Linked DNA regions of Homo sapiens: region 2 is linked to region 1. Evidence: fine-mapped expression QTL. A gene starts in region 1. The other region holds a variant in brackets. All regions are shown on one strand. Distances are between the middles of the regions. Region 1 holds the start of GMDS-DT (GMDS divergent transcript). Region 2 holds the start of LOC124901239 (a long non-coding RNA gene).

Region 1 (10,577 bases):
AGGACAGCATGGTTTGGGGAGACAGGCCCGGGGCACAGCTGGCCTGGCACACCTCAAGGAGTCCTGGAACGTCCTACATGCTGCTCCGACATCCTGGCTGCTGCAGTCACAGAATGTCTACCCAATGACCGTACAACCATTGTATCTTGGAAAAAAATTATTCGTTTTTGGTTTTACAGGCTCATAGCTAGAAGGAACTTGCTTTGAGTCTCAGACTTTGAACCGTTAAGTTGGTGCTGGAACAAGTTAAGAATTTTAGGGACTATTGGAATTGTATTTTGCATGAGAAAGATGATTGTATTTTGCATGTGAGAAGGATGAGATCTGGGGGGTCAGGGATGGAATGCCATGGTTTGGATCTTTGACCCCTCCAAATCTCACACTGAAATTTAATCCCCAAGGTTGGAGGTGGGAACTAATAGGAGGTGTTTTGGTCATGGAAGCAGATCCCTCATGAATGCTTGGTGCCATCCTCACAGTAATGAGTGACTCCTCACTCTATTAGCTCCCGCTAGAGCCGGTTGTTAAAAAGAGCCTGGCACCCCACACCCCACCCCACCTCTTGCTTCCTCTCTCACCATGTAATCTCTGCATACACTAGCTCCATGAGTGGAAGCCTAAAGCTTTCAGCAGAAGCAGATGCTGGTGCCATGCTTCTTGTACAGCCTTCAGAACCATGAACCAAATAAACCTCTTTTCTTTATAAATTACCCAGCCTCAGGTATTCCTTTATAGCAACACAAACAGATGAAGACAACTTTCATATCTTTATATCTGCAGCAGCACCAAAACAAGCCTTGGACACTGCAGACATGCAGTGAAGATGTGTTCTGCTAATGGAAAAAGTAAGTCAACAGTTTTGAAACCCCACTAGATGAAGGCATGTGGGAGGTAACAGGCTGAAAATGAGATTTCTATCTTAAAGTAGTTCATAATCTCAAGACAAAAGATATGAAATTACTTATACAATCAACAGGGACTGCATACATGTAAATACAGAGGAAGTTCCTGGAATGGCTGCATTTATCAGGATTAGGCTGAGAACACTGAGACTCACCTTAAAAGGAATAAGAATTGTGAGGCCATTCAGCCACAAATAATTACTCCAAAGAGGTACAAGGCAACAGTATTCAAAAAACAGCAAGAACATCTCCAAGAGTGCAGTAAAGAACAGCATCATTAGCCAATGGGGGTGAGCTTTTAAGAGTGGCTGGCAGAGGGCCTGGAGACAGCAATGCAAAGCCAGAGCCTGAGCTTCTTTAAAGCCTATTTAATAAGGTTCCCACTTTGGAAAAGGAGTGTGTCAAGAACCGATGGGAGGGGAAGGCTAGAATAAGAAGCCTGACAATACGTACTAGAGATACACAGCAGACAGGACACCCTGGCTGTCCGCACTATTCTCAAGCGGGAATTTGGGACAACCCATTTAAGAGCCCATCTTGGCACAAATGCCATGATAGCCCCAAGTGCCAGAGCAGTGGCATTTGAATCTGAAATCTCTTCTTAGAGTAAGACTATTTATTTCTCTCTGTCTCATAAGGCTCACCACAGTCTGTATAACAAAATGACTTACAGCAACTGCTGAGATCTGGGTTCAGATCTCAGTTCTGACACTCATTAGATGTACGACCTCAGGGAACATATTTAACCTTACTTAGCCAGGGATAAATGGGGATACTTATTATACCTGTCTCTTAGGTAGGGATATACAAAATGCTTAGCAGAGTGAATAGCTCAGTAAGTTCTCAGCCAATATTATTAAGAAAACATACAATAAGGTATGGATTTTCAGACCCCTTGCATTAACACCACAGTGCTCCAGAGATCCTTGATACTCAAGTTGGGAGTCACTGTCCTGGAATACAAATAAAAAACATAAAAGAGCAGTAAATTCCATCTGCAAGTGTTTATGTGGTAGCTACAGAATTCAGCACTATGCTAGGGGTACAGAAGCCAATGCAACACCAAATGAGGAGACAATGCAGAGGGCAGATGCCGGAGGGAAGAAAGAAACACTGGGGCAGAGATTCAACCCAACCTGAAAGCCATGCAGGTGTTTTAAGTTGGAAATGAAATGAGGAACCAAAAAATTCCAGTCAGGGAGTGGTCTGCTGAGTGTGGTGCTTCAGGTAGACTCCCATGACAGGCTGCAGGACAAACTAGAGTGGGGGCCCACTTCCATACCTTCCTGGCCACTCAGTTCCAGCCAAATGACTGCTCTTAAAAGTCAAAATTAGGTTCCATTTCTAATCTGCACTGATTCATACTGCTGGTCGTGTAAATTGGTATAGGCCACACCAACACAGCACATTAGTTAAGATGTTAATCTTAACTAATTTCCGGACAATACTAAAATAAAATCTCTACTTTCCAGAGATTAGGTAAACTTGGTAAACATTTGAGCTTCAGGTCCAGTCTGACAAAATGGAAAAAAGGGAATCATCTGCAGAAAGGTCCCAGCATTAGAAAACAAAGAGAAGGGGGAGGACAGTATGTAGGCCCTGACCTGTCTTACTGCCTCAATTCAAGGATTCAATTTCTCAACCTCAGATCCTTGCCCTCTTACTAGTTTTCAAACTCAGATCCACCTCTTACTAGTTTTCAAACTCTTGTCTATTATGATTACCTTAAGCAAAGCAAGATGCATGAATAACCAGCAGTAAATCAGGTATTCAATACTTGAAATTGTGTAATATTCTGTGACTGTGCATCTGGCCAATTTCAACTTCTCCTTCTTTTTTTTTTTTTTTTTTTTTTTTTTTTTTTTTGAGGCAGGATCTCACTCTCTTGCCCCAGGCTGGAGTACAGTGGTACCATCATTGCTCACTGCAGCAGCCTCAGACTCCCGGACTCAAGTGATCCTCCTGCCTCAGCCTCCTGAGTAGCTAGCACTACAGGTGAGCACCAACATGCCTGCCTCATTTTTTAAATTTTTTTGTAGAGACAACGTCTCAATATGTTGCCCAGGCTGGTCTCAAACTCCTGGCCTCACCTCGAGCAATCCTTCCACCTCTGCACACCGAAGTGCTGAGATTTCAAGTATGAGCCGCTGCCTCCTGCCCACTTAGCCCTTTCTAACACTAGAGAACTTTGAGAGTGGTTTCAATACCAACTGGACACTTCCCAGCGGTTTAACCTCAGGCAAATCAAACTCCCATGCCTCAGTTTCCACATATATAGAGATAATAAAAGTACCTCCTCAAAGAGTTTGTTATGAGAACTAAATGAGTTAATGTTAGGCAAGCGACTGGAACATGATAGACACAATATGTATTAGCCATTATCACCTTTATCTCAGTGTTATATTGGCCACCACCCAGAGATACCCAGGAGCACACACATCACATTCTTTCTACAGCAATATGTGGGCACGATTACTTCATGACCACTGAATCTAAAACAGCACAGCTTGGTAAGACACAGCGGTCGGATCCCACCTACTGCAACACCTCTAAGAGGCGACCCTCACAAACCAGCCATGCTTAGCCTGAGACATTCCGAAGACCTCCTCTTGATTACCTTACTCGACGAACTTATTCCTTTGAAAATGGAACTAGCCGCACTTTTGGACCAGTGTGCCTCGGATACACTTCCAAATGTGTCAACCTGAATCTCAGAAGTTGGCGTGATTTTAAAAAGTTTTTTAAGTTCTTTTTCCTAAACATGTCCTAGTAGGTGACTCCACAGCATTACTTTCTTTCATGTTCTCTTTTCTATCTGGAAATCCGGTGATAGGGGACGAAACCAGCAAAGCACCCTTTTTCTTGCTTCCCAAACGTTAGCAGGTAAGCGCCCCTTGAGCCGAGACACATCAAGAAGACCTCACCCGCAAGTTCATTGATCACCGGTTCTTTTCCCTTTCCGGCACTAGGAGCTGCGAAGCACGACATGGGCTTGGAGGAAGAGACGCTGCGGTCACCTGAGGGGCAGGTGAGAGCGGGCGGTCCTGCCCGGGTGTGAGCGCGACATCCCGCGCGGCACACACGCTCACAGCCCCCAGAGAAAGACCAGAGGCGCTCGATGTATCCCGCACACCCCACACGCAACACACTAACTGCACCGTACCTTCCGTCCCACCTCCCGGCAGCAGACCCCTTCCGGGACGCCGAGAGGGCTGTTCCTGGAGAGACCGCAGCCCACGAGTAGCGGCGCGTAGGGAGAGCACGCGTGCCCAGGCTGCCTCGGCCGGCGCGCCCCCGCCCCCGCACTCACCTGGCCTGTGATACCGGTGATGAGCGCCACGTTCCTGGGCTTGCCCATCTCGCCGTCCCCGGAGCCCCGGGCGCTGGGGCAGCGTGCCGGTGCGTGTGCCATGTCCCGCGGCGGGCGTGCGGTCGGCGGCAGGGCGGAGCGCGGCAGAGGGCAGGCGCGGTGCCGGCAGGAACGCGGGGGTGTGCAGCACGAAGCGCCTCTCCAGGCTGCGGGCAGGGAGGGAGAGCGCACCGCGCGACCGGCCGCCACAGTCTGACAGGGGCGCACGGGAGGCCGTGCAGGGAGGGCCGGGGGCGGGCCGAGCCGGCCAAGGCGGGCCCGACGGGCCAAGCAGCGGGGCTGCGGCCTGACTGGCGCAGCGTCATTCGCGTCAGCCGGCGACGCTGTAGCAGGCCCCGCCCCTCCGCCGACGGCCACCGCGCGGGAGGGGCGGGGCCTGCCGCCGCCACCGCCTCAGGGAAGAGGAAGGAGGCCGCGGCTTCGCGTCCCGCCTCTCGCCTGGCTGGCCGTGGGGGGCCTGGACGCAGTGGCCTCCCGAATCTCCCAGGACCCTAATATCGCCCGAGGATGCTGGGAGGAACGCTGAGCCGACCTCTCCGTTAGGCTGAAGGTCTGAATTTTCAAACCCAGGGGTCACAGGGCCGGGGTCATGGACTTTGATAAATAATTCCTGGAAACCTGTTGCAGTGCCCTTTGAGAAGCCCGGTTTATGGTACCTGAAGGGCAGTAGCGTACAAGGCCCGTAAACGGGGGTCACAGATGTGGGAGTGACTAACTAGGCTGGCTCTCGCTCTTCTGGCCTTTCCTGAGGCTCGGAACCAGTAACGAGGTTCCAAATAGCTGAATTCAAAGTTTTCTCTTCTGAGGACTGCCAGTGCACAAGAAAGTCCCTAGCCCCACCCGTATGCGGCATAAGGAAATGTTGAAAAGACTGCCCGGGTCAATAAACCTGGACGTGGCAGATTTCAAAGAAAGTAATTCAAACACAGGTGGGGTCCCGGCTTACATCTGTTGGATTTGGCTGCCATTTGGCAGCTGCTCGTTGGACAGGGAGAGGAGAGGAGGTGACTCAGAGCCGGGAGGGCAGCAGGTGTGTGTGCCTAAGCAGTTGGCTGCAATCCAGGACACAGACGGAAACTTCCCGGTCTCCGTTGCTCTGCTTCTCTGTCCACATTCCTCTCCCTAATCGATAACTTCAGATCATCATTTCAAATCACAGAGTTACTAGGGCTGTGCCCAATATAACGTGCAAGAGTATGTATAGCAGACCTGGAACCCCAAAATCAGAAAAGCTCAGGATTACATTTAAAACCTCCCTCTCGCGCTCCTCGAGGTCCGTTAGGAATATTTCTTAGCTATAGATAGACTGGTCTGGTTTCACACCTGGCCTCTCCTCTGCGTTCTATGAGGAGAATGGCTCAACAAACATCTGATGGTGCCTCTGAGTGATGAAGAGACCCTGAAGCTGAGGAGAGGGAACACTTCCATTGAGAGGAACATGCTATAAGCTAGAAATGTCTGTGAAATATACGGGAATATGCTAAAACTATACTCATTTTCATGTAAATACGCTTTAAATTAATGCATGAGCCAATTATTTAACATTTTCCTTAAAAAAATCACTGAGCAAGCCGGGCGCAGTGGCTCACGCCTGTAATCCCAGCACTTTGGGAAGCTGCGGCAGGTGGATCACCTGAGGTCAGGAGTTCAAGACCAGCCTGGCCAACACGGTGAAAACCCGTCTCTACTAAAAATACAAAAAATTAGCCAGGCGTGGTGGTGGGCACCTGTAATCCCAGCTACTCTGGAGGCTGAGGCAGAAGAATCGCTTGAACCCGGGAGGAGGAGGTTGCAGTGAGCCGAGATCTTGCCATTGCGTTCCAGCCTGGGCAAGAAGAGCAAAACTCCATCTCAAAAAAAAAAAAAAAAAATCACTGAGCAAAACTGATACTTATGGGAGATATGACACATTTATCCTGTAGTTTTGAGACCTCCTATCACACAAACACTGGAAGTTGACACCAGTCAATTTCCTGTCACACCACCAAACACCTGCCCTAGAAGTGTGTGACAGTAGAAGAAAAATGGAAAAAAAATCAACATTATTAGGGCCTGAAAATATTTATAAAATGATGGGAAATGGTAGGTCAGAGGAAGCTTGAAGAATAAAGGCTATTTCTCTAGAGAACTTTTCTGAAGACAGGTGGTAGGTCTGCTACAGCAACGTACCATCCATAGGGTGACAAACGATAGAAATTTATTTCCTCACAGTTCTGGAGACTGGAAGTTTAGGATCAAGGGCTGATTTCTTCTGAGGCCTCTCTCCTTTTCTTGTAGCTGGCTGTCTTCATGTTCACATGGCGTTCTCTCTGTATGTGTGTCTGTGTCCAAACTTCCTGTTCTTATAAGAACACCAGTTACATTTGATTAGGACCCTCTTTAATGACCTTATTTCCAAATACAGTCACATTTTGAGCTACTAAGAGTTAAGACATCAATATATTAATTGGGGGAGGGACAAAATTCAACCCATGATTGACAGCTAGAGGGAAAAAGAGGTTCTTTTTTTTAACTGTTTGTGGGCTCGGAGGGAGGAGGTTGGTAGTGGAGGTTGTTGTCATTTTCCCAGTAGCATTAGGGCAACTTGAACAACGTCAGCACAGGGTCTGGGGCAGCATAAGAAGATTACATTAACTAGAAGTAAAGCGACCAGCGGTAGTGGAAAGCTCTAAGGGTGATGGCTCAGTTGTGTTTTCCTCTAACACAGTTCTCATCCCTGGGTGATTTTGCCCCCAGGGGACATTTGACAATGTCTGGAGGCATTTTTGATTGTCACAAATGGAGTTGTGCTATAGGTATCTAATGAGTAGAGGTTAAGTATTTTGCTCACCATCTGCAGTGCACAGGAAGCTCCCACAACAAAGATTTTTCTAGCCCAAAATGTCAATAGTGCTGAGGCTGAGTAACCCTTCTCCAGGAGGCCAGTGAAAGATGTTAACAAGCGGGTGGTTGAACTGACAGACACTGGCTATACTATACAGTGACTTCATGGTATGTCAGAAGAAGCAAATACATTTGGTAGCTAATTGTTGATGCTGATACCTTTACTCACAAACTTGGCTAATCTCCAGAAACATACTAGCTGCTGAGGGTATAGCAGTAGAGGAGAAATAATCTTCAAGGGGCTATAATCTGAAAGGGATATGATATTGAATCATTTTATGACTTTTCATAACATTTTCATATTTGTTTTAATATGATACAAAATATAGAGAAAAGAGTGAGGCCTCCAACTCCAAGTCCTCTAATTGGATAAAAGTCAATCATTCTGTACAAGACTAAATATGTGGAATAACATTTTTCACTTCTTTCTTTCCCATCTCTTGCCACTGAGTGCATGCCAGTTATTCAAGAACGATTCTCCAGCATTCCCTTTAAAATTCTCTCTCCTCTCCTTTTTTAAACATTTCTTTCCTTTGCTTTTCACATGGAACATTTGCTGATCTTCTTTCTCAGATTGCACAAACCATGCTAATGGCCAGCATGGATGGAGGGAGCGTGTGAGATGTGTGGGGCAGCGTGCTGCATCTCAGCCAACTCCAGGAGGTAAGTGCGTCTGCTGTGGTGAAATCTATATTTGGTCTTCATTTCTGTTTTCCTGGCATATGATTTCTAAAATGCTTAGAATCACCAAAGCGATGTATTTTGTAGGGTAATGAGTGAGTTCACTGTTGGCTGGCAGCCCTTAGGTGGCTTCAGGGTGGAAACTGGTCATTGTAAAGACCAATGCAGGATTAGAGGGCTGGGACTTTCAGCCCCATCCCCTAACCTCCAGGGAGGAGAGAGAAGCTGATGGTTAAGTTGATCACCAACGGCCAACGATTTAATCAATCATGCCGACATAATGAAGCCTCCATAAAAACCCAAAAAGGACTGTGTGCAGAGAGTTCTAGATAGTTGAACACGTGGAGGTACATGGAGGGTGACGCTTCAGGGTGGGCACCAAAGCTCCAAGCTCCTCCTATTCCTTGCCCTGTACATCTCCTCATCTGCATCCTTTGTCATATACTTTGTCATACCAGTAAACTGGTAATCCTGAGTAAGAGATTCCCTGAGTTCCGTGAGCCACTCTTTCAGATTAATAAACCTAAGAAGGGGGTCACGTGAAGCCCACTTTTTGGCCAGTCAGAAGCACAGGTAGAATAACCTGGGGCTTGCAATTGGCATCAGAAGTTGGCGGGGGCACAGTATTGGGGACTGAGCCCTTGACCTGTGGGATCTGATGCTATCTCCAAGGAGACAGTGTCAGAGTTGAATGGAATTGAAGGGCACCCAGCTGGTGTGCCCTATAGAATTGATTGCCTGCTTGTGGGTGGGAAGAAATCCCATGCATACTTGGTCACAGAAGTCTTCTCTGTTGATTGGTGTTTTGTTAGAGCAGGGGAAAAACAATTTGAGTTTGTCCACACTCAGTATGATAATGATCTTTATTTCATAGAGTCAGAAACTGAGGATTGGAAACATTAATAAACTCGCCCAAGGCCACATAGCTAGTGGCTGGTTATGGTAGATATTATGCTCATTCAACTCCCATTCCATACTCTCTTTGGAAAAATTAGAGTGCTCAAAGCCACATGTCCCAGACCATTTTGCATCTCATATATAGGAAGCAAATTGAGCTTTGTCAATTAGATGCGTTCCTGCTCAATCTGGCAGGTGGAAGTGAAACAGAAGCCATCCTTCTGCTTTCTGGTCCAACTGACATGAGGATTAACGGCAGTTAGAGTCCAAGTTTGGGTCTAGTCACCGTTTTCATGGGCATGAGAGCCACTTGGGTTGGGGGAGCAGCATGGCAGCAGGAGTGGTTTTCTGAATTCTGGCCTTCAGCTATGGTGGTAATGTCCTGACATCAACAACTGAAGGCCCTCCGAGTTCTCTTCCTCTGTCTCATAAATATTTTTTTCAACTAATAATTGTAGATTCAAATGTATTTTTAAGAAATACAGTGAGTGACATGGTCATGTCTTCAAATACTATAGAGCAATAGCACAAGCAGCATATTGGCGTTGATAGAATTCACCAATCTCATTCAGATTTCCTCAGTTTTTGTACTCATTTGTGCAAGAGTATGTGTATTTACTTGTGTACCGTTTGGTTTGGTTTGTTTTGCCTGAGACAAGGTCTCACTCTGTCATCCAGACTCACTTGCAGCCTCAACCTCCTGGGCTCAAGCCGTCCTCCTGCCTCAGCCTTCTATATAGCTGGGACCACAGGTACACACCACCATGGCCAGCTAATTTGCTTATTTTTAGTAGAAACGAGGTCTCACTTTTGCCAAGGCTGGTCTTCAGCTCCTGGGCTCAATTGATCCTCCCTCCTTGGCCACCCACAGAGCTGGGATTACAGGTATGAGCCACCATGCCCAGCTATTTTTTTAATTTATTTATTTTGAGTAGAGACAGGAGTCTCACTTTGTTGCCCAGACTGGTCTTGAACTCTTGGGCTCAAGCAATCCTCCTGCCTTGGCCTCTCCCACAGGGCTGGGATTACAGGCATGAGCCACCATGTGTGGCCTACTTCTATACAGTTTTATTGCATGTATATATTCATGCATCCACCACCGCCATCAAGATTCCAAAACCACCAGGACACCTCATGTTACCCCTTTATAACTGCACCACCTCCCTCCCACCCCCATCCCTAATCCTTTGAAAACACAAATCTGTCCTCTATTTTTAAAATTTTGTCATTTCAAAATGTATCATAGGCTGAGTGGAATGGTTCACGCCTGTAATCCCAGCACTTTGGGAGATAAAGTCTGGAGAATTGCTTGAACCCAGGAGTTTGAGACCAGCCTGAGCAATATAGCGAGACCTTAGCTCAACAAAAAATAAAAACTAGCCAGGCAGGGTGGCACGTGCCTCTGGTCCCAGCTACTGGGGATGCTGGGACCTCATTTGACCCCAGGAAATTGAGGCTGCAATGAGCCATGATCGCACCACTGCACTCCAGCCTGAGTGACAGAGCAAGACCTTGTCTCAATTTTTTTTAAGCATTATAAATGAATAATCTTTTGAAATGTGCTTTTGTCATTCAAGTTTTCTGGAGAGTCATCATCCAAGATGTTGTGTGTATGGATAGTTTGTTTATTTATTTAGTTAGTTAGTTATTTTTGAGAGGGTGTCTTGCTCTGTCACCCATGCTTGGAGTGCAGTGGTGCAATCTCGGCTCACTGCAGCCTCTGCCTCCCAGGTTCAAGCGATTGTCCTGCCTCAGCCTCCCAAGTACCTGGGATTGCAGGCACCCTCCACCACACCCAGCTAATTTTTGTATTTTAGTAGAGACAGTGTTTCACCATGTTGGCC
Region 2 (10,577 bases), 480 kb before region 1:
AAGTGTTAGAGCTGGGGCTGGAACCTCAACTCCCTTTCCTGTATTCTTGCGACTGCATGATGCTCTTGTGCATTCTCCTAATGGCTGTGTGTAGAATACATTTTCTTGTTGAAACTCAATTCTACGTGCTGGTTACAAATAGCTGTGTGGACTTTTGTGAGCTAACCTGGGGACCTGACCAGACAAGAAATGAATGTTTACAGTGTGCCTGCTAGTTGCTGGGCACTGTGCTAGAGTCTGGCGATAGACCACGTAGGAACAGACAGGGAAGACACTGTGCCTGGCCTACGTGCTTTAAACATTTATATAGGAAAAAGCGTTTTAAAAGTCCAAATCTGATTTAAGAAATAACTTTTGGGACAGAGGCTTCAGGTAGTTATCAGGGAACTATCAGGTATGGCTCCTTTCTAAAACCTTCCTCCTAATAAGACTGTCCCCACACACTGCTCTTGATGAAGGAGTGAGTCAAGCCAGGTGTATTTAAACCAGGTGATGTGTCCCTGTGCCTACTGCGCCCCAGCCCCCCACCCCCCAACACCCTTCGGTTTCCATGGATGGAGACCTAACATATTCTGGGCCAATGGGAATGTCAAAGACATTTGCAGTAAGAGACCCAGAGGCAGAAACAGCAGGAAAGGGCTGAGCACCCAGGCGTGAGACTGTCACCGGGGCGGAGCCAGCTGGAGAGACTGGGAGGCATGAAGACCTGTGTGGGCAGCAGAGTGGGAAAGGGAGCCCACGAGGAGGGAGGGAGTGAGGGAGATGTGCAGACACAGAGGAAAGCAGATCCTCCTTTCCCATTCCTGCGAGGTGCCCTGAGGCTCCTTACAAAAAATCCCGTTTTCCATGAATTTCTTTGAGTTGGTTTCTGCTCCTTTAGCAAACAAGTTTGGATAAAGAGCAAATAGGACTTCTGGACCACGAGTATATGGGACCAGTTGTGTATCAGCTCTGTATTCAGTGGTAAGAAGGGAGCTCCAGGGGGGATAAGTCACCACCTGTTGACCTCAGTATCCAGTGGGGAAGATGGCCACTTGCCCAGCCAGCCACTAAAATGATGGGAGAGGGGCCAGTGTGAAAGGAGCTGTGGGAACACAGAGGAGACAACCCAGTACACCAGAGGAGGAGGAGTACTCAGGGTCCTCATGAGGGTGTCATCAACCCATGGCCCCCGCAGTCCCCACCGCCGAGGACCGCCCACCCTTGAGCGCCTCTAAAGATGGCAGGCTGGGACATGCACCGTCTTTGTAACTGGGAACCTAGTGTCCTATGCAACTTGTTGGTTAAAACTCATTTCAAATGTGTTTCCCCAGTGTCTTCATTCACAAAAATCTAGATGTCAAGTTAAAAGTCACTCTTCCACTCAGTACTCTGAAAAACATGCTGAATATAATTAGATTTAATCATTCTTCTTTTAATTTTTGTTTGCTAATCTGAGAATGTCCCACTATGAGGAGTATCTGAGCTTTGTTCTTTCGGGTGGTCCAATTGCTCTTACTAACTTGACCTCACCCGGGACTGGGATGGTCTGTTGGCATAATGATTTCCCAGATGCTGACTCTGCAATGTCCTGGATCAACACAGATGAAAAGGGAAGCCAGTTGTATTTAAGAAAACAATGATTGTAACTGTAACATTTGAGTGTAGTGATAAAGGAGGAAAGAAATTCTACTACATACATGCAAAGAGTCATCTAGAGAAACCTCCCCTTCCATGGAAGGGCCTGTCCACATGACTGAAAATTAAACAAAAGGCCCCCTGTGTTCTCCAAGATTCAGAATAAAAATCAAGAGCGTACCTTGAAGTTCAATTATTTTAAAAACACATTATAGATGATCAAGGGAGTTTTTAAAAAATTAAGTCTACTTAATTCTAGATGAAATCTGGAAAAACAAGTAGAAAAAGCCTACAATGAATTAACACTTTTAAAGTATTTAACTTATCGAGTATTTGAAAACTCTAAAATATCCAAAAGATAATTTAAAAAATCTGTGAGAAACTTAAATTATCAGGTACTGAGAATGAACATTTATTTTTTGGTGACTAAAATTCTCAGTAGTCTGACAAGTTATCAACGGCTGCTCAAGACTGTTAACAAGAAAGCCTGTCTAATACTATACAGCACCATAAGTAATGTCATTTACGCCAGTGCTAAAGGTCGAGTTCTGAGGAGCAAGCTTTTCTGTTAATATAACACAGCATTTTTCACATGCATTTCATGTGAATGAACAATGTCTTCATTGTTTGCCTGAACACTAATTTAATGTTGTATTTTTTTTGCTTGTGTCAATGAGTGTCAAAATATTGTTCTTTTAATACATGAAAGTATTTGCATAGAGCTTTATTACTGATCTTCAGATGTTAGCCAGAGGCAAAATAAAACAGAGACGCTCCAGTTGGGAAATCTCGCTCACAATGAAAAGCAAGAGTCCTTAACATATTCTGCTCTCCTGCCAATTTTTCTTCCAAGTACACAATGATTTATTTACTCCATAATTGGTGAAATTAAAAGCAACACTGGAGACGAAAAAAAAACTATAGGAAACCCTTTCCCTAAAAATGAAACAGAGACTTTGCAAGGAGGAATACAAAAACTCTAAGAGGAAGTACTAAGATGTAAGATCTTAACGTGAATTAAAGGACAATCTGATATAAACCTGATTACAGAAAAAGCCGAGAAGCACAGTCTGTTTCAACCATGAAGTGAGAAACACAGAGGCAATTTTTATTAAGTTATGCCTTTCAGCATCATCTCATCATTAAATGCTCAATTGCTTATAACCGTCTGCATTTATTAAGAAAAATAAAGCCACCACATTTTCTGCCTCCACAAAGTTGAAGAGTCCATAACCAGGTATCGGATGTGGTTTTCAATTCTGTTTTTTCCCTCCCTAACACTAATTATCCTGCCATTTGGTACTGCCAAAAAAGACAAAATGCCCTTTCAGAGAGGCATGGGCTCCTGCTGACGGGTTACTCACGACGAAACTTCAGGGCTGTACCCGGGTTGTGGTCAGGAGTGAGCAGTCCCAGAGCTGGCTGCCAGGGCAGGCTGGTAAAGGCCATGCTCGCACGGCGAGCAACCCGACCAGCCTTTCAAGTCAAGTGTTGGCTTGTAGACATATAAGTTAATCAGCTATGAAATAACCACCACAATGTACTTATTGATCACACAGGGCTTATGATGAAACTCTTGGCCCAGGGAAGATTTGTGCTTCTTTCTTTCAGCCTCCAACCTAAGAGAAAGAGCACTTTGAGGTGGTGTTTACGAAAAGGCAGATGTTAACTTCATGATTTCAACCTTCCCTTCCTGGGGAGGATGAGAAACACGCTGGGTCTTCAAAATGAAGCCCGACACATTCGCGTCCCTGTTCATTTTTTACAGAACTTGACATTTTCAGTGTATTGTGGTTATTATTAAGGAAGAGTATTTAGAAAGTTTCAAACTGATAAATTTTAAATGTGTTACCCTAATTTCTTTGCTTCGAGACATTAGGGAATGCTGATCATTTTGTTTATAAATCAATAATATCAAAGAATAGCAATTGAATGTTTGCTCCAAAAATCAAAACCATGTTTTAGAAAGCTGGTAGTTTTAAAGTGCTAGTGTATGTACAAGCAGAATGTTTAGTGTACTTTTACTGCTCTTGAAAATGAGCTGGTAAATACATGTGGTAATTATACTTTCTGCTCAATCTTCGGTTCCCATTTCTACCAAATTCTTTCTAAGATCGCAAAGGGAAAGACAAGGTGGGTGAGGCTGACTGGTGCTGTGGACACGTGCGAAGATGCTGGCAGATGTGGGCCACGGGCCATCCAGAAACGTGAAAAGAAACCAGTGTCTTTTCCCACTAGGTCAGCCCCATTGCTCTGAGCTGTCTTCTAATGTGCATCTTCTTAACCAAAAATGAAAAAGAACAAATTCAGTTCTGATTTCAGTGAGAGGACTATGCAAAGGGGCTGAAGAACCAGTGACTTAGGTCTTCAAGGGAAGCATTCAGTAAGTCAATTCTCCAGGGGCATGGAGATAAAACCCCAGCGTCTCCCCAAGAGTAAACCTACTGGCAAGTGATAAATCCCCCACTTCCAGGGCGCTGCCCTTACTGTCTGGCGAGGCCACAGACTGCAGGTGGACAGACATTAAAAACCATGGTCAGTGTGAGAATGAACATGATGGATGGTATGACAATTATGCAACTGCTCCTTCCTCTTTTCTTTCACATAGATTGCCCTGTGTGTGACTGACTCCAGAATAAACAGATTTTTTAAAGATCTAGTATTTCTAACAGTAAAATGGATTTCCGGTTTGCCCAGGGGGAACAATGGGACATCCCAGTCATCATGGTGGCATGAAATCTAGAAAGCGGAAGAACCAGTTTCTCCATTGGTACGAATCTGTCTCCCACTCAGTAGCTCAGTTTGAAACTTTGCTAGGACCACTAGTGAAAGTAGTGAACATCCGCTCCTGAGAGTGAAGAGTGCTCCCTGTCTCCACACTGGGGGCACAGGTGGAGGGCTCCCTTGGAGGGAGCAGTGCCATTTGCTGAAGCTGCGATCCACTGGAGCTGAGGCACCCCCTCTTGGCAGGCACCCCTGCTAGTTTGGAGGGTCTGCAGGGGAAAGACAGAGCGGGCATTGTAGGCCTGCCTGCTGCTTGTCCGGTACATCTCCTCGTAGTGCTACTGAGGCTGGGGGTTAAGAGTGAAGGAGCGAAGAAAAAAAAAAGCTGTTTGTTTGAAATGATTTTGTTCCCAGCAGTAAAAACAGTGCTGGTAACTGAGAAGGCCTTTCTGTGATCACAAATGTACATTCATACAAGATGGGAGACAACTATTTAAAGCTGGGAATGTGCTGTGAGGGTGAATACGAAAACATGCACTCAAAACGGAGGCCCGTGTGTGGGATGTGAGAGCCGAGAGGTTCACAGAGGCAAGAGATGGAGGCTTTATGTGTTTCTTCATCTTTCCAAATGAATTATTTTTACAGGAAAATACTCGATGATAAAGGATAGTCTTAATATCATGTAGTGAAAAGAACTTGGACTGAAGTCCTAAAACGCTGGGCCCTGTCTGGAATAGGCTTGTCACTTTAGACAACTTACTCATTTCACCCTTGATTTTCTTACACAGGTTATAGGGTTTTAGGTATCCCATCAGATAATATGTTAAAAGCACTCTGTGATCTACAAAATGTTATTGCTGTTATAAATGATAATATTATTGGAGAAAATCCTGGGTTAATGCCTAAGAGATCATCACCGCTCC[G/A]TAACGATCGTCAAGATATGATGTGATAATTCCATGGGGCTGTTATCATACCAAACATAAAAACGCTGCATTTTTCAGAGCATGAATTCTTTTTGAAAGATGAGTTTTAGAACTGAATCTGGGGTTTCAACATTTCCGTTCTAAAGAATTTCTGATTCCTTGCCCAAAATCGTTTGGTTATATTTAAGTTCTGAAAGAACACAAAAATCCTGGCAATTTATATGTTTGTCTCAACATGCGGGTTTTTGCAATTTCAAGAAAATAAATTTGTATTATATAGGTAGATAGTTCAGAGGAGCTGTCTTTTTTTCTGAGTAGGGAGCTTCATGAATTATTGTTAAATAGTGTTCCTTTAATAGTGTTGCTAAATAGTAAACAGCTGTGGGCACATTTTTTTCCCCCCAGTGTGACTTCTCAATGAGGAAGAAACCTTAACTGACAGGAGTGATCAGAAGATTTAAACAATTTAAATCTTTTAAAAAACAAAACTAAACCAAAAAGAAAAAAAAAATTTACAACAGATCAGTTAACTGGAGATTGTGCTTTTTGGAACCGGATTCTAACTTAAGCATGGTAGCAATTCTAATGCTATCTTTTATTCAACACCATTTTCCTAATTATCTTGGTCTAAATGTTTCCAAACTTTGTTGTTTATTTTGGCATAAAGAGTTCCCAAGGCCACCGCCTCTTTTCCTAGAGCTGGGGATGGTGTTAACAAGAAGGTGAGATGGGAACACAACCCATTAACAAGCACTGAGAAGGCTGTGGTCTGAAAAACCCCTCGAGCAGATAAGAAGGCGCTAGGCAAGAGTGAGCCCAGGAAGAGAGCAAGGCAGAGCCCCCACAAAAATATTCATTCGCATTGTTTCAGTGAAGATAATCAGAAGGATTTCCCTCAGGTTTCTTATAAATAACATTCATTTCATTGTCTAATTTTACAGATGGAGAAACTGAGACATGCTTGGAGGACTGACCTGCAACAGGGTCACGCGGCGGCTGAGCAGGAACAGAAGGCAAATTTCCTGGTCCCTGGGCCAGTTTTCCACCCAATCTACCCCGTCTAAATGAAACGGCAGAAGCTTAGTTTTGATAAGCAGTTCCATGAAAACATGTCCTGTGCCAGATTCTCGCTGGTGCCCGAGACACTCCCCGATGGAGGGTTAGGGCTCGGAGCCCTTTAACTCCTTCGGCACAGTGGAGAAAGGTTTAGGAAATAGCAGAACAAACGCAAAGGCCTTGAGAAGGCCCTTGCGAGACTCAGCCCAGGACTCTTCTCTCTGTCCTATCTTCAGCCCTAAAGCAAAGGGCTGAGGATGTAAGAAGGCTTTCACCTGGGTCCTTCGAAACATGCCTGGTGCCTTTATTAACTCCTCTACTTCAGAAATCAGCTGCAAACGTCCTCTCTCCCAGTGGGCAGAGCGGCTGCACTATATGAAAACGACACATGTGAAATGGAGGGTGGGTATGTGAAGCTCAGGATGATTCATGGATTCGCTGCCCGTCTGTTTAAATGTAATACTCTTTCAGTGCATCAAGATACCTGATGCCATGATTAATTTTTGTGTGTGGCACAGAAGCAAGGAGAAGTTAGCTAATTTAAGCTGATGTGCATTGAGTCACTGGAAATTGGACAGGAGCAAAGACCACAGAACTTTCGAGGCAGCAGATTCATTTGGGCTTCAGGAAACGCGGTGCATGAGCTGTTTCAGGTGCTGGGGAAAGGCTCTGCGTTAGAACCCACACCTTCCGTCTCCCGGGCCAGGTCTCTTTGTAGGCCACCACGGAGAGAGAAAAGCATCTTGAGAATCCTAATGGGAACCAATGAAGAAATGAGTATCATATTTATATATCTGCTATAACTCACTTTCTAATGAACAAAGTCGCTTACTTTGAAAAGTGATTTCTCTCTTGTGTATGGCTCGGGAGGAGGGTCTAAGGTGGGCCTCGCTACTCCAGTGCCTCCGGAGCCCAGGGAAGCTCACCTCAGGCAGCCTGCAGAGGCTCTCCCCTTCTAGAAGGCCCAGCAAGCGCCCCGTTTCCCACAGACGGTTCCCACCTGGGGATGTTGAACCAGTCTCACCAGATCTGCTTACACGGAGGAGCTGCACATCGAACATGCTAAAAACTGCGTTATGTTTTTTAAAAACCCAACAAACTCTAAAATGTTAGCTGTGGGCTGAAACACTGACTGGACTAAACAAAGCCTGGCAATGGGCCAGATCTGGTCAGCTAGGTCTCCCAGCTCAGCAATCTGGCTTAAAGGAGCACCGGGTAAGGGTTCTTTATTTCCTGCTGAATCTGACTTAAGTGTAAAATCGAGCAGGGATCCCCAAACCTTCCTCTCACACCACAGCTGTAGGGCACACTGAACTTTATTCTGTTCAGTAGAAAATGAAATGAACAAACTATAAAATGTAGCTCCTTAGATTTGTTTATAATACAGATTCAATATTTAATAATACTTTTGTTTTCCTAGTTTTCTGAAATTCTTCATATACGAAATGTAAACCACAAAGGGAATATGATTTTAAAACCGGAAACATATTTTCCACCCACCACCCCCCCAAATTTCATTAAACGCATAAAAGAAAATATCCTTTGTAAAATGGCTAATTACAAAATAATTAGTCACAGAGGTCCTGTATAACAGAAACGACAACAACTCTTAAGTTTCAGTCATCAAGAATCAAGGAACTTATTATTTGGGAAATAAAAATACCAGTTCACCTTAAAGTAAATTTTGGGTTAAAAGGAAAAAAAGATGGCCAAGCAAAGTCAAGTTATTACTTCAACCTTATGCCCTGTCCATCTTTTCAAATGTACTTCAGATAAAAACAAGCAACAAGAGCAGAATGTGCTATTGGTGGCCCTCCCTTGAATTCTTCTCTGAGCTGCCACCACTCCCGAGTCTCCCAGACTGACCTCTGAGTCAAGCCAGATGGGACTGAGAGAGATGTTAAGCAAGTGCTGAAAAGGTGACTTGAGTCTCTGGCAGCCGAGTCTGGAGCGAGTTTCTCTGCAAATTCTCTGGGGGTTGTTGCTTTCCAATTTCTCAGGAATGTTTAATTCTCCTCATCCCTTCACTGAATCTCTCTCTGGAGAGGTCAGGGAAGCCTGTGACATCCCCGGAGGGCACTGCCTAACTAAATTAGCATGAGATAACTTTGGACTCTCTCCCAAACATGAAAATACAAGGGAGAGAGTTTCATTAAAAACAGAATACTAGGTGATCCCAGTTAATCCCGGCTCTAAGCTGCTGTAGAATTGCTCAGTGTTTACATTTTGACTCTCTTCTCGGTGACAGTTCACCGACTATACTGCCAGCTATGTTATGCATACAGCTTGCCCTCAGCTGACCAAACCCTAGTTTCATAATAAAGGTAAAAAGTGGGTCTGGTGGTGTTAAAATAGGTATTTAGCCTGTATATGTTACTATATGAAGCAGAAGATCCAGAGGTAAAAATAAACATTTCAGTACTGAGGCCTTTAAATATCTTTTAAATCAGGAAACAGGAAACCTTAATAGGTAACATGAGTCATTAACCATATGAATGTGTGTAAACAGGGGAATATCTAATGTCACTTCAGTAAAGCATACAATGTCATAGAGACATGCTTTCTATTATATCCACAAATATTTGAAAGAATACATTGTAAATATTTAGAACGACAGTATAATCAATAGGATATGTTCAAAAAGTGCAAGGATGATGATTTCAGCATTTGCTTCTAAAAATTTAATTGGAAGAACAGCTCCAAAAAAGGGATCAATATTGCCAGCTACTACCAATATATGACAGATAAGATACTGAAGAATTCAAACTTGGGTACATACCTTAGAACTCCTGCTTCAACCAAGGAGGTACTACGTTTACTCATTCCTTCATGAATAAATGTTTCTTGTTAGTCACTGTCACATAATATACAGGTTGAGTACCCCAATCCAAAAATCTGAAATCTGAAATGTTCCAAAATCTGAACTTTTTGAGTGCTGACTTAACGTCCAAAGGACATGCTCATTGGAGCATTTCTGTTTTTGGATTTGGGATGTTCGACCAGTAAGTATAATGCAGATACTCCAAAACCCAAAACATTTCTGTTCCCAAGCATTTCAGATAAGGAATACTCAATCTATATATTTTGCTTTGATTTAAACATGTTTTTGTATCTTTTGAATATTCATAATTTGTAAAAACTGGCACTTCACAACTCCTATTTAACTACTGACATTTTACAGACTAAAAGAGTTATGCTTATATTTCTCATTTTTTGTGTGCTTATTCATTTTGAGTTCCTTTTAATATTCCTTCAATATTGTAAGAGATAAAAGATACAGAATAATATGCCCAGGAGAGGAAATAACAGCTTACTCTGTCTGATTATACTATATTCTACAGAGAGAAAAGTACTCAGTGATAAAAAATTATTCACTAGTATATTATAATTTAAGTTAGGTTATCTACTGATGTAATTCGTTCCTAGAAAAGTCCTTTATTTTGACTTGGTGATTCTGTGTGATCGACTTTCACTCAAGCTTCACGACAATAACTGACACTAATAGAACTGGGTTTACGGAGATAAAGAGGAAGCGGATCCTTCTCCCAGAAGCAACCAGTGTAACAGAAGGTATGCAGTCTAACTTGTGAGTAAACAGAATTCTGGAATGTCCAATACTGGGGTAACAAATTCTCTCAAAGCTGGAGGAAATAAAGAAAATGACACTTTAACCTGTGTCAAGCTACTTCTCAGCTAAAATCCAAGTTATATTCACACTGAAGCTATGAAAACACAAACAACCCAGGAAGCACAGGGATGGAATTGATTGGCATTCTGTAATTCCCTGCCTTCCCTTTTGCTAACCCCTCATGGGCATTTTCAAGGGGACTGGCAGGACTCAGTGAAATCCTCAGCCACTTAACGAGGCTATTAATTGGCCAGGAGGAAGACTGAAGCCCAAGCTTCGACCTCAATAGTTTAAAGCTCTAACAAACCAACATCAATTAGCACAGACACAAAATTTTGATATCCTTTAGGTAACACAGAGTTTAAATGTTTTTTATTTTTTATTTTTTTTTTTGAGACGGAGTCTTGCACTGTCACCCAGGCTGGAGTGCAGTGGCGTGATCTCCACAACCAAAAAATGCGTGATCTCTGCTCACTGCAACCTCCACCTCCCAGGTTCAAGTGATTCTCGTGCCTCAGCCTTCCAAGTAGCTGGGATTATGGGCGTGGACCACCAGGCCTGGCTAATTTTTGTATTTTTAGAGGAGATGGGGTTTTGCCATATTGGCCAGGCTGGTCCCAAACTCCTGA

The links. PIP is the estimated chance that this variant, and not a neighbour inherited with it, causes the effect.
Region 2: its variant is fine-mapped to the expression of GMDS-DT in spleen (GTEx, PIP above 0.99).

Annotation. Positions count from the first base shown.
Region 1 is chr6:2,241,109-2,251,685 of GRCh38, forward strand. It overlaps GMDS-DT (GMDS divergent transcript), which reads left to right and starts at 4,645. Exons shown (of 7, transcript NR_046229.1): 1 at 4,645-4,822; 2 at 7,729-7,818. It overlaps GMDS (GDP-mannose 4,6-dehydratase), which reads right to left and starts at 4,497. Exons shown (of 11, transcript NM_001500.4): 1 at 4,213-4,497. The coding sequence starts at 4,314. RefSeq lists an enhancer at 4,139-4,639 and a silencer at 4,140-4,769.
Region 2 is chr6:1,759,380-1,769,956 of GRCh38, forward strand. All of the region lies in intron 7 of GMDS (GDP-mannose 4,6-dehydratase), which reads right to left. LOC124901239 (a long non-coding RNA gene) reads right to left here and starts at 6,232. Exons shown (of 2, transcript XR_007059404.1): 1 at 1-6,232. The variant G/A (reference allele first, on the strand shown) is at 5,265.